Linked DNA regions of Homo sapiens. The protein of the gene in region 2 interacts with the protein of the main gene of each other region in a pairwise test. Each region holds a gene or a part of one and is shown on either strand. Other genes may lie near its edges.

What was found. Proteins that work in one complex are often made in the same cells at the same time.
Region 1: the proteins of CDC7 (region 2) and GMEB2 interact in binary tests that used the Homo sapiens proteins (3 or more experiments, as listed by UniProt).

The regions. Positions count from the first base shown.
Region 1 is NC_000020.11:63,589,102-63,596,101, forward strand, and holds part of GMEB2 (glucocorticoid modulatory element-binding protein 2), read right to left. Parts: intron 6,667-7,000; coding exon 6,509-6,666; intron 3,982-6,508; coding exon 3,910-3,981; intron 3,570-3,909; coding exon 3,432-3,569; intron 3,044-3,431; coding exon 2,921-3,043; intron 1,629-2,920; coding exon 988-1,628; 3' UTR 1-987. UniProt on the Homo sapiens protein: Trans-acting factor that binds to glucocorticoid modulatory elements (GME) present in the TAT (tyrosine aminotransferase) promoter and increases sensitivity to low concentrations of glucocorticoids. Also binds to the transferrin receptor promoter.
Region 2 is NC_000001.11:91,503,757-91,510,902, forward strand, and holds part of CDC7 (cell division cycle 7-related protein kinase), read left to right. Parts: intron 1-4,097; coding exon 4,098-4,181; intron 4,182-4,505; coding exon 4,506-4,641; intron 4,642-7,146. UniProt on the Homo sapiens protein: Kinase involved in initiation of DNA replication. Phosphorylates critical substrates that regulate the G1/S phase transition and initiation of DNA replication, such as MCM proteins and CLASPIN.

The DNA.
Region 1 (7,000 bases), on a different chromosome or scaffold from region 2:
CTGAAGGGCCCACATGGGAATCCTCGACCTCCATAGTGACTGGTTCTGTTTATGCCTCTGCCCCAGGACTGAAGCCCTAGGGACACACCTCATGGATCTCAGACCCCTGGGAGGGGCCGGCTCAGGGACAGGCTGCCCAGGACCTCCGCACCCGGTCAAGTGCACTCACAGGGGCTCAGGGGCCACCCAAAGAGCTAACTCGGGAAGCCTAGGCACTCACCATTATTTTGGTTGAAAATGCTATAAATCTGACTCTTCCTAGAAGCCTACTAAGCAATTCACTTAAAAACACCCTCAGTACATGTGCAACAATGCCTGGACCACGCCTCGTCTGTGCGGCCCCTGGGCCACCTGAGCACCGGCTGGGGGCGGGGGAGGCAGGCACCCATCAGGATCTGCACCCCAAGCTCCGGGTGCATGTTCCCAACTGGAGGAGAACGGGGCGCCAGCCACACTAAACCTACAGAAAACTGTGGGAAGAAACCAAATCCATAGGATCCAGAGGTTTCACACTTGGGCTTAGCTCCCAAGTCATGAGTTAGTAACGTCCCCAGGGACCTGGCTGGGTGCAGACATGGGGGCCTCGTGACCTGCTGCACCGCGTCCAGCACCTGCAGGGTCGCGCTCGGCACCTGGCTCTGCTTCCTCTGTCTCTGCTGCACCCAGGCTCCCCCTAGCCCCCGCCCACCTGGCTCCTGATCAAGGCCCAATGTGTAAACAGTATTAATAAGCAACAGATGGAAAAATATATTTCCCAAGAAAAAAGGGGGAGGAAACGTGGGACCTGAAGACCGATTTTCCAGGTTGCTCTCGCTGTTCTGTCCCCTTCTCTCTTCTCGTGATTTGTTTTGGCGATTCCTCTCTTTGGTTCTGCAGACCACGTGACCCACCTGCCCGAGCCAGCCCTGCGGCCTCTGCCCGCTCCCTGCTGCCGCGGCTGAGAGACAGCCAGCCCTGTCCGTCCCAGGGGCCTCGCCCTCCTGTCGGCTACTTCCGCTCGTGGTCCTCTGCCATGGCAGCCACCTCAATGGTGGCCGTGTGCTCCTCAGGCCCGGGGGCAGCCCCTGCGGGCACTGTCACAATTGTGCTGGAGCCAGGCGAGGCCTGGGCCACGTTCTGCAGGGTGGGGCCCAGGCCAGGCAACGTGAGCAGCTGTAGCGGGCTGACCACCTTGAACACCGTGCTACCGTCCTGCACGGCGGCCGTGCTCAGGACCGTGAGGCTGGACGCGTCCGGGTGGATCTCCACTGTGCTGGGGTAGGTGGAGCCGGAAGAGGCCAAGACTGTGTATCCCCCGAGCAGCGGGGAGGCCGGGGAGCTGGCGGGGGGCGCCTGAAGGGAACCCTTGCCCAGGACGGTGGACGGCAGGGTGGACACCACTTTACCAAGGGGCACGCTGGTCAGCTGGGGGACGGGCACGCCCGGGCCAAGCGCCAGCTGGGCAGACTGGGTGAGCACCTGCGAGGCCATGGCGGCCGGTCCTGATGTGGCACGTGCAAGCCGGGGCCGCTTCACAGGCGGTGGCAGGGAGACCGGCGTCAGCGTCATGAGCACGTTGCTGAGGTGCTGGGACTTGTGCTTCAGCTCCTTGGCTCGGCGACGATGCTCATCACACTGCTGCTCCAGGGCTGCAGGGAGGTACAGATGGCATCACACAGGGGACGGGGGCATGGATGGCGGCATGCAGGGGATGGGGGCAGACACGCCACACCATCTGGGTGGCCCCTGGGTCAGTGGCAACCCAGGTCTGCTCACCTGATGCCACAAACCCAGATGACCACATGGCCGCCAAAGGTGAGGTCTGTGGGAGACGGGGCCCAAGATGGCCCTCGGGGTAGACACCAGCCTGTGCTGACCCAGGGTCTGCACTGACCCGGGGCCTGTGTGCAAGCGTGGCAATCCCGTCTCAGACCCTCCTGCACTGACCCAGGGCCTGCGTGCAAGCGTGGAAATGCCGTCTCAGATCCCCGCATGAGCTTTCACACACCCAGCGTGGAAAGTTGCTCTTGTGACATATTAAGAGAGAGAGGAGGAAAAGCAGCACATGTGGCACATGTGTTTAAACATAAACATGCACACACACATGCAGAGTGCACACACACAATGAACACAAACAGTGAACACACAAAGTGAAGAGTGAACACACAGTGCACACACACTGAATACACACACACTGAACACAGTGAACACACACACTGAATACACACACATTGAACACACAGTGAACACGCAGTGAACACACACACACTGAACACACACACAGTGAACACACAGTAAGCACAGACCCCAAGAGGAGCATGGAGGAAACGCACCAATATCAGGGGCTTGAGCTCTGAGCGGGGTCAGGACCAGCCCTTCCCATTCTCTGTCATTGTTTTTTTTTGAGACAGGGTCTCGCTCTGTCACCCAGACTGGAGTGCAGTGGTGTGATCTCAGCTCCCTGCAACTTCCACCTCCTGGGCTCAAGCAATTGCCTGCCAGCCTCCCGAGTAGCTGGGATTACAGGCACACACCACCATGCCCAGTTTTGTTTTGTTTTTTTCAGCAGAGATGGGGTTTCACCACGTTGGCCAGGCTGGTCTCAAACTCCTAGCCTGAAGTGATCCGCCCGCCTCGGCCTCCCAAAGCGCTGGGATAACAGGCGTGAGCCACCGCGCCTGGCCTCTGTCATTTTCTCTTAAATAACTACTTGGTTCATCACAGAAATGCCGGTAAATGTAAGCTTAGTGCAATGGAGAGGTCTGACTACCTCACTTAAGCTTCAGGTTGTTTTCCTCGCACAACAGCAGTGCGGAGAAGCTCGCCGTGGTGGCGGTGACTCCAGGAAGTGCAGGTGGATGCACAGCCGTGGGGTGAGCCCGTGGGCTCCAGGTCCTCAGCCTACCGCCCAGGGGACGGGACGGGGGTGGTCTCAGCATACCTGCCAGGTCCCGGGCGTACTGCTCCCGCGAGCGGTCCATCTGGCACTTGTGGCTGGCCAGCACCTTCTTCACCAGGTCCAGCATGCCGAAGTTCTGCACGATGTTGTTGAGAAGTACAGCATCTTAAAGGGTAACGCGGACACTCAGTGAGAGCCCAAGCCCTTCCTAGAGAGCCACGCGGACGCTCGGTGAGAGCCCGGGACCTTCCTAGAGAGTCACGTGGACGCTCGGTGAGAGCCTGGGCTCTTCCTAGAGAGTGAGAACACCACCACTGAGGCTGCTCCTCAGGAACCCAGCCAGCCAGGAGCTCAGTTCAGAGGGAGAAGACTGAGATACATCAAGGCGATCCTCCCACCAAGTTCAGCCTCAGCACAGCAGGAGTCCCAAGCCTAGATTCAGCCTCCAACCCAGCAGCACAGAAGGGCCTAGGGGCAGGAGGGCCAGTGGCCTCACCTCCTGCAGAGACTCCTGGGCTGAGTAGCCAGCAAGAGGGAAGATGCAGCTTCTCACCTCGAAGCTGCAGGGGAGGGTCCTGGACCCGCTGCTGCAGGCCTCTCATGGTCTCCACCAGCTCCTGGTGGAACTCCTGGATGACCTCGTCCAGCAGGCCGGCGTCCTTCAGCCCCCGCCAGAAGGTAAATGTGTCATCTGTGAGGGAAGGAGTGGGTTCAGTGGGCAGGGAAAGTGCTGCTACACGGGGCAGCCACCACAGCCACAAGGACATCACCATAGCCACGAGGACACCATGCCAGAGCCGGCAGCGCCTGGCACTGTGCTGGGCTTGCACTGCCCAGACACATCCACAGTGCCAAAATCTAGCAGGTCAGCCTCAGAGCGCCCACGACAATGCTGCTGGAACCAGGCCTTTCTCCACAAAGACCCTGCCGGCCCCACCTGGACTCCTGGAGCCCCTGTGTGGCCCGAGGTGGGCAGAGACTCCACCACCCCGCCAGGGCTTGTGAGAAGCCCACAAGGAGGAACCTCGTACCTCCAATGGCCGCGGTCCAGTCGCCAGGGTCTTCACAGGTCTCTATGGTGATGGTCGCAGGAGACCCATTCACTGCAGCCGAAAGGGAACCTCGGGTGAGTGCTGTTTGGACCACAGTCCCACACCCCACATACCCTGTCCACCCTCCTCACACCACCTTCTGAACCTTTCCATCTGTCTTCACAAAACTGACAAACACAGGATACGCACTAGTACAGCCAAAGTGTACCTGCCTTATATTTTATGGCTATTTTTAATCACAGACGTTGTCAAACATACAAAGGAGAAACAACGCAGAAACAAATCCCTTGAACCCGTCACCCAATTTCAGCAAATCCTCAACACTTTCCTCCTCTTGTCCATTTACGATTGTACTCAACAAGCACTTTCGACTGGACCGTCAGGAGCGAGACAAGGTGATCCTTCTGCTTGACTTGTTTTCCCACCGAGAGCTCTGCGGCTGCGTCTGTCGCCCGTGGGGCTCGCCCTCACCTCGCCTCTTCAAGTGATGCTTCATTGAAGTCATCATAAATCTCAGTATCTATCATGTTTCCATTTTTCTACACCAGAACAAGTGGGGCTTTGAGAGACAGAAACCGTCCTGGCTCTTCCTGTGGGTCCCTCTCTCGCGCCTGCAGAACACAACTGGGCGTGTCGTTCATATGTGGCCATTTTGGGCGTTGCTGATAGAGACTTTATACACAGATCTGGCTTAAAAAACAAACCCGGGGCCGGATGTGGTGGCTCACGCCTGTAATCCAGGCACTTTGGGAGACTGAGGCGGGTGGATCACCTAAGGTCAGGAGTTCGAGAACAGCCTGGGCAACACGGCAAAACCCCGTCTCTACTAAAATACAAAGTCAACCGGGTGTGGCGGCGTGCGCCTGTAATCCCAGCTACTCGGGAGGCTGAGGCAGGAGAATCGCTAGAACCCGGAAGGCAGAGGTTGCAGTGAGCCGAGATCAGGCCCCTGCACTCCAGCCTGGGCGACAGAGCAGGACTCCTTCTCCAACACCACCACCAACGACCTGGAAGCAGTTGAATGTTTTGGGAATACTGGCCTTTTCCACATTCATCAAAGACATGGCAGTGGTGAGTATGACTCATATTACACATCTGGAATTATTTGGGGCGTGAATGAGTCGTTTTTCCGAGTTGGGGCTGGCACAGCATCTTTTACTAACTGCACAGTAGCCAAGTCAATGGTTCTCAGAGATTGCAGGTTAAAGAACCCAAATCATCTTCAGAAGAGCTGAGCCTCAGCCTAGCTGTGAGGCACTGACTACAGGGCGTGGAAGGCCCAGTTCCTTCCCTGGCAGGCGGTCAGGCAGGGCCAACACTAACGCGGTGGAGCCGCTGGGGAGGCCCTGGGGAGGACAGACAGGAGGCTGGGCTCTACCCAGCCCCTCTGACCACAGCAGCCCAAGTGTCCTGGGCTTCTCAGGACTCAGCACTGAACCTGCCAGGCTGCCCCAGCAGGACGTGGAAGGGGGCCCAGGAGAAGGGTGAGGCCTCCCTAGTGCCCTGGCCTCACTCTCCTACCCAGCGGGACAGGACAGGACTCAACTGGGTCCCACCTGGGCCAACAACAAGGACGTCCCTGGGCACACAGGAACACAATCTGGCCAGCAATGCGGAGTGGCAGCTTAGGGACAATGCATGTGGCATTGCTGGAAACACATCACCAAAGACCACCCAGAGATGTGACCAGGGAGCCCAGGACCTAACTTCACTTTAACTTCAGTTTTTTTGTTTTGAGATGGAATCTCACACTGTCGCCCAGGCTGGAGGGCAGTGGAGCGATCTCAGCTCACTGCAACCTCCGCCTCCTGGGTTCAAGCGATTCTCCTGCCTCAGCCTCCTGAGTAGCTGGGACTACAGGCATGCACCACCACACCCGGCTAACTTCTGTACTTTTAATAGAGACAGGGTTTCATCCTGTTGGCCAGGCTGGCCTCAAGTGATCCACCCGCCTCGGCTTCCCAAAGTGCTGGGGTTACAGGTGTGAGCCACCACACCCAGCCTAACTGTAGTTTTAAGAAAAATTTCTCTATTCATAAAGCTGGAAAGAATTCTAGGGAACAACCTCTCCACAGTTTAGAGCTACAGACACCAACGTGGAACAGTATCTAAAGCGTCACCCAAAAACCCAAGTGGCAGGAATACCTGCAGCAAGGCACCCAGCACGGAAGGCGGGAGCACAGGCGCGCAGTTCCGTAAACCGCCAGGTCAGGAGGGAAGCGGGTCCAGATTTGGGGCTGGGCCGTGGGGGTGGGAGGGAGGGGGCCGGGTGGGCGCCCAGGCACTCTCTGTTACTCGCTATACCCTTCCCCACACGTGAGTTATTATATTACAACCAAAATGGCTTAAAAAGAAAAGTGCTTCAATCTTCCTTGTCAATGAAAGCAGCAATTCTGCCAGATCTCCTCTGTGAGGCAGGAGGAGGCTGATCCCAGACAACTCAGGGTCCCAGGCAGGAGACCGGCAGTCCTGGCGTGAGCAAACGCCTGGGGCCAAGGAGGCCACCCAGGGGCATGTCACCCTCTGTGGCCATGGCCAGGGTGGGGCTGGGTCAGGACGAGCAGCCCTGTGCACCTACCGTCGGCTGCGGCGGGCGTGAGGGGAATGTACTCGGCCGACGTGGGGCTGCTCAGGGACACACGGGCTCCTGAGAGGTCAATCTTTGTGCTGCGGCAGGTGTTGGAGCAGACCTTGTCATGCTGGTAGAAGTCCAGTTCCCCGGAGTCCATGATCTTCCTGTGACAGACAGTGGCATGGAGCGTCCAGGTCGGCCCCAGAGCCGAAGGCACCTGGCCCGCCCACCCTGACCTGGGCCATCCACCTGCGTGGGGCAGGCCTAGCAGAGGCGCTGGCAGCTCCACAGGGCAGGGTGGGCTCTACTTCCCTCTTAGCGCGAGCTCGGCGTGCAGGACCCTGCTGCTGAAGAAGCAGCCGGCCCAGGCCCACGCTACGGCACTGTCCCCAGGAAGGGGGCAAGCGCTGGCCAGTGGGTGTCCTGGAGGTGCCCGTCAGAGTCTGTGGGGCTGGGCCTTTCTGGGATGTCCCACTACCCCAGCCCCAAGGGAGTGAC
Region 2 (7,146 bases):
TGACATTTTGTTATATTCCTTTAGCCTTTCTAGGCATACATAGGTACATTTTTTAGAAACTAAATTGGGATCTTGTTTTGTTTTTGTTTTTGAAAAGAGAACCAGAATATGGGATCTTATTTCTGATCTCCATTTTTTTTAATATATATCTTGAATATTGCTCATGTAGTAAATATTCTACAACTGGATTTAAGGTCCATTGCATATTATATTATAATATATTCAATCACCTTTTACTATTGACCCTATAGATTGTTTCTATTTTTTCCTATTAAGAAAAATGCTGTAATGCACAAACTATCTGGCATAATATTGGTCAAATGTTTATTCTTTCACTGTTTTGGCAAGCTTTTTTTTTTTTTTTTGAGACATGGTCTCTCTGTCACACCACTGTCACTGGAGTGCAGTGGTGCAATTACAGCTCACTGCAGCCTTAACTCCTGCACTCAAGCAATCCTACCCCCTCAGCCTCCTGAGTAGCTTGGATTACAGGCATGTGCCGCTACACTCAGCTAATTTTAAATATTTTTTTTAGAAACAGGATCTTGCTATGTTGCCCAGGCTGGTCTCAAACTCCTGGCCTCAAGTGATCCCCTCCTATCTTGGCCTCCCAATGCACTGGGATTACAGGTGTGAGCCACCATGCCTGGCCAGTAAGCTTTTATTTTTTTTTAAGTATCTACTATATGCCAAGTTTTAATAAGTGAGAAAGATCTGTTCAGTGAAAGAATGATGTATAAACTCTATATTGAAAGTCTCCTCCATACTGGTGAACTCTACTGGAAGGAAGGCTTGCTTCATTCTGTTTGCTACAATGACACCCTTAGCCATGCTTCTAAAATGGGCTATGGGTACCATCTTTGTTTGCCTGGGACAGATCTAGCTTACGGCTATTGTCACAATGTAATTATTATTCCTGCTGCCTTTTCACTCAAGAGTGTCCCAGTTTGGGCTTATATTATGTATTATCCCCTAGTTCCAGGAGGTATAAACCAGAGAGTACATGAAGCCCCAGAATAACCATGACTATATGCCTAGAGTGTCAGTTTTAATCCATGACAAGATATTGAAAACGTTTCATTTATGTGATGAATATTTATTGTCTGTTATATACATGTACTTTTTTAGGTGCTAGGGATAAATCAAACCATAAAACAGAAATTAACACTGTGGTAGTTAGACAATAGACAGAGAGTAAACAAAAGAAGTAAATACTGTGCTCAAAAGTGATTAATGTTACTAAGAAAATGTAAAAGGGAAGGGGAGATAGGAAGTATTGGGGAAGGAGATTGTAATTTTAGTGAGTATGGTTGCTCATAGCCTTCTGTAACATTTGAGCTAAGACTTCAAGGTGGTGAAGGAGTGACCTGTGCAGATATTTGGGGAAGAGCATTCCAAACAGAGGAAACGGCAAGTACAAAGACCCTGAAACGGCAAGTACAAAGACCCTGAGATGGGAGTGTGCCTAGCATTCAAGAATAGCAAGGAGGTCATTGTGGCTAGAATGGGGAAGGTAATTGGAATGAAGTCAAAGAGAGATGTAAAGAGGCTTTCTAATGGAGTGAGATGTGAAACCATTAGAGGTTTTGAGCACAATAGTGACAAGGTGACTTAGCTTTATCAGAATACTCTGTTTAAACTCTGTTTGCTATGTTGCAAGCCGACTGGCTACTATGTTACAGATAGACTCCAGGCTGGCAAGGAGTGTAGTTAAGGAGACTATTGGTATATTAAAACCAACTTGGATATATTATGCAGCAGAAAACAAAAGTGACTTAAAATGTCAAAATAGAAGCCTAGACCTTCATGTATAAAATAGAGGCATTTAAATAATTTTTAGCATATTATAGATTTTCGGGATCCTCCTCCAGTCCTCAAAGTCTGTTTCATTTGTCTGTCTTTAGTACTGTTTTCCAGCTTTTGACATGAATGCACTTTTCTGCTTTCTGCTGTCATTTCCCACTTCAGAATTTGAGGATATTGCATTCACTTTGGTTGCCAGGAAGTTTTACTGTTGTTTAAAATTGTTGAAGTTGTTCTGAAGTGACAGGAAACCTTAATAAACATTTTGATTTTTGTAAAGAGGAGTAGATGCATAATAAGTGAGTAGTGGTGTGGAAGTACCCTTAATGTTTCTCCTCCCTTTCACATCTGTTCTCCACTTGTCATTTTTCTGCTTAAAAACTTCCTATAGCTTTCATGTGCATTCTCTCTTGTCTTCCTCAGCCACATTCTATTTCTATTATTGTTATTATTGTTATTATTATTGAGACAGGGTCTCCCTCTTCCATCACCCAGGCTGGAGTACAGTGGCACGATCATAGTTTAGTAACCTCAAACTCCTGGGCTCAAGGTATCCTTCTGCCTCAGTCTCTGTAGCTGAGACTACAGGCCCGTGTTACAAAGCCCAGCTAATTTTTGTTTGTTTGTTTGTTTTTTAGCTTTTTTAAGAGATAGGGTCTCAAACACCTGGCCTCAAGCAGTCTTCTTGCCTTGGTCTCCTAAAGTGCTGGGATTACAGGCCTGAGCCACCGCCCCAGGCCACATTGTATTTCATTGTCTCTCAGCCCTCCCCCTACCCTAATCATCCAAGCCTTTTTTTTTTCTTGTTCCTGTCTTTACAGACGTAGTTAATTTTTCCTAAAATGTTTTCTTCCACTTTCACTACTTGGTGAATGCTTCAGAACAAAACTTAGCTGTCAACTGAAGGCTTCCTATCACCTTCAGAAATCCTCCCCAACCTAGTAGTATATACATTCTTTTATTACAGGTGTCACCTTGTATTAAGAATGATAACATGTTTCCTTTACTAGACCAAGCTCTTAGTGGCTGCATCAAATTTATTGGTTTTTTTTACATACCCATTGCTGAGCATTTTTTAAGACAGCGTTTATTTAAATGAATTAGTTCTAGCCAGGTGCGGCGGCTCACACCTGTAATCCCAGCACTTTGGGAGGCCAAGGTGGGCAGATCACTTGAGGTCAGGAGTTCAAGACCAGCCTGGCCATTGTGGTGAAACCCCGTCTCTACTAAAAACACAAAAATTAGCTGGGCGTGGTGTTGCGTGCCTGTAATTCCAGCTGCCCATGAGGCTGAGGCATGAGAATCTCTTGAACGCAGGAGGCAGAGGTTGCAGTGAGTGGAGATTACATCACTGCACTCCAACCTGGGCAACAGAGTGAGACTCCATCTCAAAAAAGAAAGAAAATTAGAAAATATATATAATCAGCAACACCTCTGTGAAATTGGGCAAATGATTTAACCTCCCTGAATTGAGTTTCCTTATCTGAAAAATCAGGATAATCATTCCTGCTCTGCCAAGTTCACAGTACTGTTAGGAAGACCTCAAAAGATACTGCATGTGCCGGTGCTTTGAAAATGTCTTAAACTTATGCTATATAGGGCTAGTAGAGCCTAGATACTGTAATAAAATCTGAAGACTTATCTAGTTCTCTTCTGTATCCAGTAGTTTACTGGGTTTTGTATTATTGCCTCCCCTTGTTTTAACTATGTACATTTTTATAAAGAACTGATACTTATTTAAAAGTAGCAATTTATCTGCAGTCAAGGATAGAGGATACTACTGGCAATTGGGACAAATTTTTAAAAATACTTTTTTACATGCTTGAGAGCTTTAGTAGGCCTTCTCTCTGAAAATATAGTGTGAATATTTAATACATAAAATTTTACCAAGCCTTTAAGATTTTGTATCTTTACGGGAAATAGTTTTCAAGAACATCGCAATGTGTCCTTGTCATGCCATCTAGTGATCACAGCACAAATTGTTTAGTTATTTTAAAAATTTGGTGCTTTTTCATGTTGTAATCTCTACAGTAACAATGTATCTCTTAGTATATAATTCCAGTATAGTAGAAATTTGGTGTATTTAATTCTGGGACTGTCATTTTTGTCTGTTCAAGAGGTGTGTGTGAGTTATAGCAACTTGATGGGTTTTAATCTTATCACAATGTTATTAAAACTTATGTATAATTAATTACTCATATTTTATAATTTATTTCATTGAGCTTTTTAAATTTTAAGAAACTGTAAAATATACTGTCATTGATTAAAACTCTAAATTTTTGTTTCCTTGAAAGGTGTTAAAAAAGATATTGAGAAGCTTTATGAAGCTGTACCACAGCTTAGTAATGTGTTTAAGATTGAGGACAAAATTGGAGAAGGTAATCTGGGGATATGCTTTTACTATTTTTACGAGGTCTTTTTTCCATTCTATTTTCCTTTTTTAGTCTTGGTTTTCATTACTATTTCTTATTGAAAAATATACCACTTTTTAGACTATTAAGACCATAGTTTTATTACTAATTATGGTAACAGCTTTTCTTTTTCAACCTTAAAGAAAGAATAAATAATAAATATTTACTGTAAAATGAAGTCCTGTTTTAATGTATTATGCCATTGAAACAGTTTTTACAATCTATCTTAGAATTGTTTCATTAACATTTTTAAAAACCAGATATTGAAAAATTTAATAAATTGTTTTACAGGCACTTTCAGCTCTGTTTATTTGGCCACAGCACAGTTACAAGTAGGACCTGAAGAGAAAATTGCTCTAAAACACTTGATTCCAACAAGTCATCCTATAAGAATTGCAGCTGAACTTCAGTGCCTAACAGTGGCTGGGTAGGCAATTTAAACATATTTTAATTGAACTTGTATATAATTTATAAGATTTTAAAGTAGATATTTAGCAGGGATGAGGGGATTATATGTGAATTAAATACATTTTTCAGTCAAGTGTTTGCAATTTGCTAGCACTTTCCTTCTAACCTTGCAATAGTTAGTTAAATTTATAGTAATTCTTTTAGATTGGATTTCCCTTGAGGCTCGACCTGATTTCCTGTCTTTTATCACTGCTTTTTGTAACCTTCCTGCCAAATCATAAACCTTGGCTTTCATGGTTTACATTATTTTGTAAATGTAGGGAACTCACATTTCACATTTCCCCAGCTATTGACGACCTCATCTAATATTTTATTTAGAATAACAGAATCATCTGGTATGGTTTCTCTCTGCTAGGTCATTTCTGTCAACATATGGACATGATTTAGAATCTTACCCTCCTAAACTGCCCTCCTTCTTCCACCTGCTCCATCATTTCTTTGTTCCCCCTTACAGCCAGACTTCTCAAAAATTATCTGCATACATTGTTTTCATTCCACACCTCTCTTTCACTAAATACCTATTGCGGCTGTTCTTCTCTATGCTAAACTGGAAACTATAGAGTCAATCATTACTCTAGGCATCATTTAACACAATTGACGTGAACCCTTGTCTTGACTTCTGTCCTGCCACACCCTCCTTGTTTTCTTCTTCCCTCATTTGGCCTTTCATTTTCAGTGTCTTTGCTAGCTCTTCCACTTCTATCTGACCCCTAAATATTGGAGTTCCTCGTGCTTGCTCTTAGGTTTCTCTGTATTCTTAGTGTCCTCCATTTCCACATGATCTAAAGTAATGATTCCCAAAAGTATATAGTTAATCTCAGACCTTTTATCTTAACTACAGGTTTGTGTATATCCACCTGCCTATTTAACATTTCCACTTGGTGCCTGATAAATATCTCAAACCTAAAAGACAAACCTAAACCTTAACATACCAAAAAAAAAAAAAAAAACACCACAACAAATGTTCTTATCCACCCGTCTCTGCAAATGGCCCATCTACACACTTGTTTGGGCCAGAAACCTAGAAATCATCCTCATTTTCTCTATTTCTCTCCTAAACCACATTAATCACTAAGTCCTAGCCATTTTGGCTCTAAAGTATATCTAGAAGTTCATCCATGTCTTTCTGTCTTCTCTGCCACTACCTCAGATGAAGCCTAGACTACGACTGTAGCCTGCTTCTTCCTTCTCCCCTTAATTCTGTCTTTACACAGCAGCCAGAATGATCTTTAAAATATAAAATATATATGTATATAACTTAAATTGGGTCATTAGTTCCACCACTTAAAATCTTTCAGTGGTTTCCCTATGTACTTTGAAAAAAAAATTCAACCTTCTCATGCCTATCTTCCCACCTCCCTCACTGTGCTCCATTTCTTTAGTTTATCAAATTTGTCTCAAGAGCTTTCTTACCTCAGGGCCACTGCCCAGACTGTTTCCCCATTCAGGAAGACCTCTCCCAGTCATTGCTTGCTGACCCTTCATCTTCTGATCTGAGCAAGAGTGAAACTGGACGCAGTAGTTCATGCTTGTAATCCCAGCACTTTGGGAGGATTGCTTGAGGCCAGGAGTTTGAGACCTGCCTGGGCAACCTAGCAAGAACCCATCTTTACAAAAAACTTAAAAATTATCCAGGCAAGGTGGCACACATCTGTAGTCCCAGCTACTTGGGAGGCTGAGGTAGGAGGATCGCTTGAGCCCAGGAGTTTGAGGCTGTAATGACCTGCGATCACTCCATTGCACTCCATCCAGCCTGGTCAACAAAACAAGACCCTGCCTCTGAGAAAAAAAAAAAAGAGTGACATTGCTTGAAAGATGTCTTCTCTGAATTAAATTAGATTCTCCTATTTTTTTTTATTGTCATAGCATCTTTAGATTTCTTTCAAAGCCCTTATCGTATTCTGTCATTATAAGTTACCTTGTTATTATCTGTATTGTCCACTAGATAGTAAACTCCATGAGGACAGAAATTCTGTAAATTTTATTCACTATTGCATCACTAATGTCTATAATCCCTAACAGCAAATAACAGTGCCAACTAAATACTGAATGAATGAATAAGCCTGTTTGTTTCAGCCTTCTGTGTATTATAGAAGACAAGAAAATGAGATGGCCTCTATAAAGAATGCTTGCATACATTCTTGTACCCTAAATATGATCATTTCTTTTTCTATATTTTTAACTGTCTCCCTCTACCACTTTTTCTTTTTCTGTGCTTAAAAAAGTACATGCTAAAAATGCCTTCATCTGATCTTACAATGCAGTCAGGCAAATTGTCTTCAGGCTCAGCTTCCATTGTGTTATATTTTCCTTCCTTCTGTTTTGTTTCTTCCTTTCCACTTAAATTGCTGTCTTAAAAATTACCAGTTAATTATTCTTTGCCTAACTAAAAGCCTTCCCTCAGTTGTTATTCTCTTTGACTTCCATGCTAATAACTCTTCCTTCAAAATTCCTTTCTTATTTG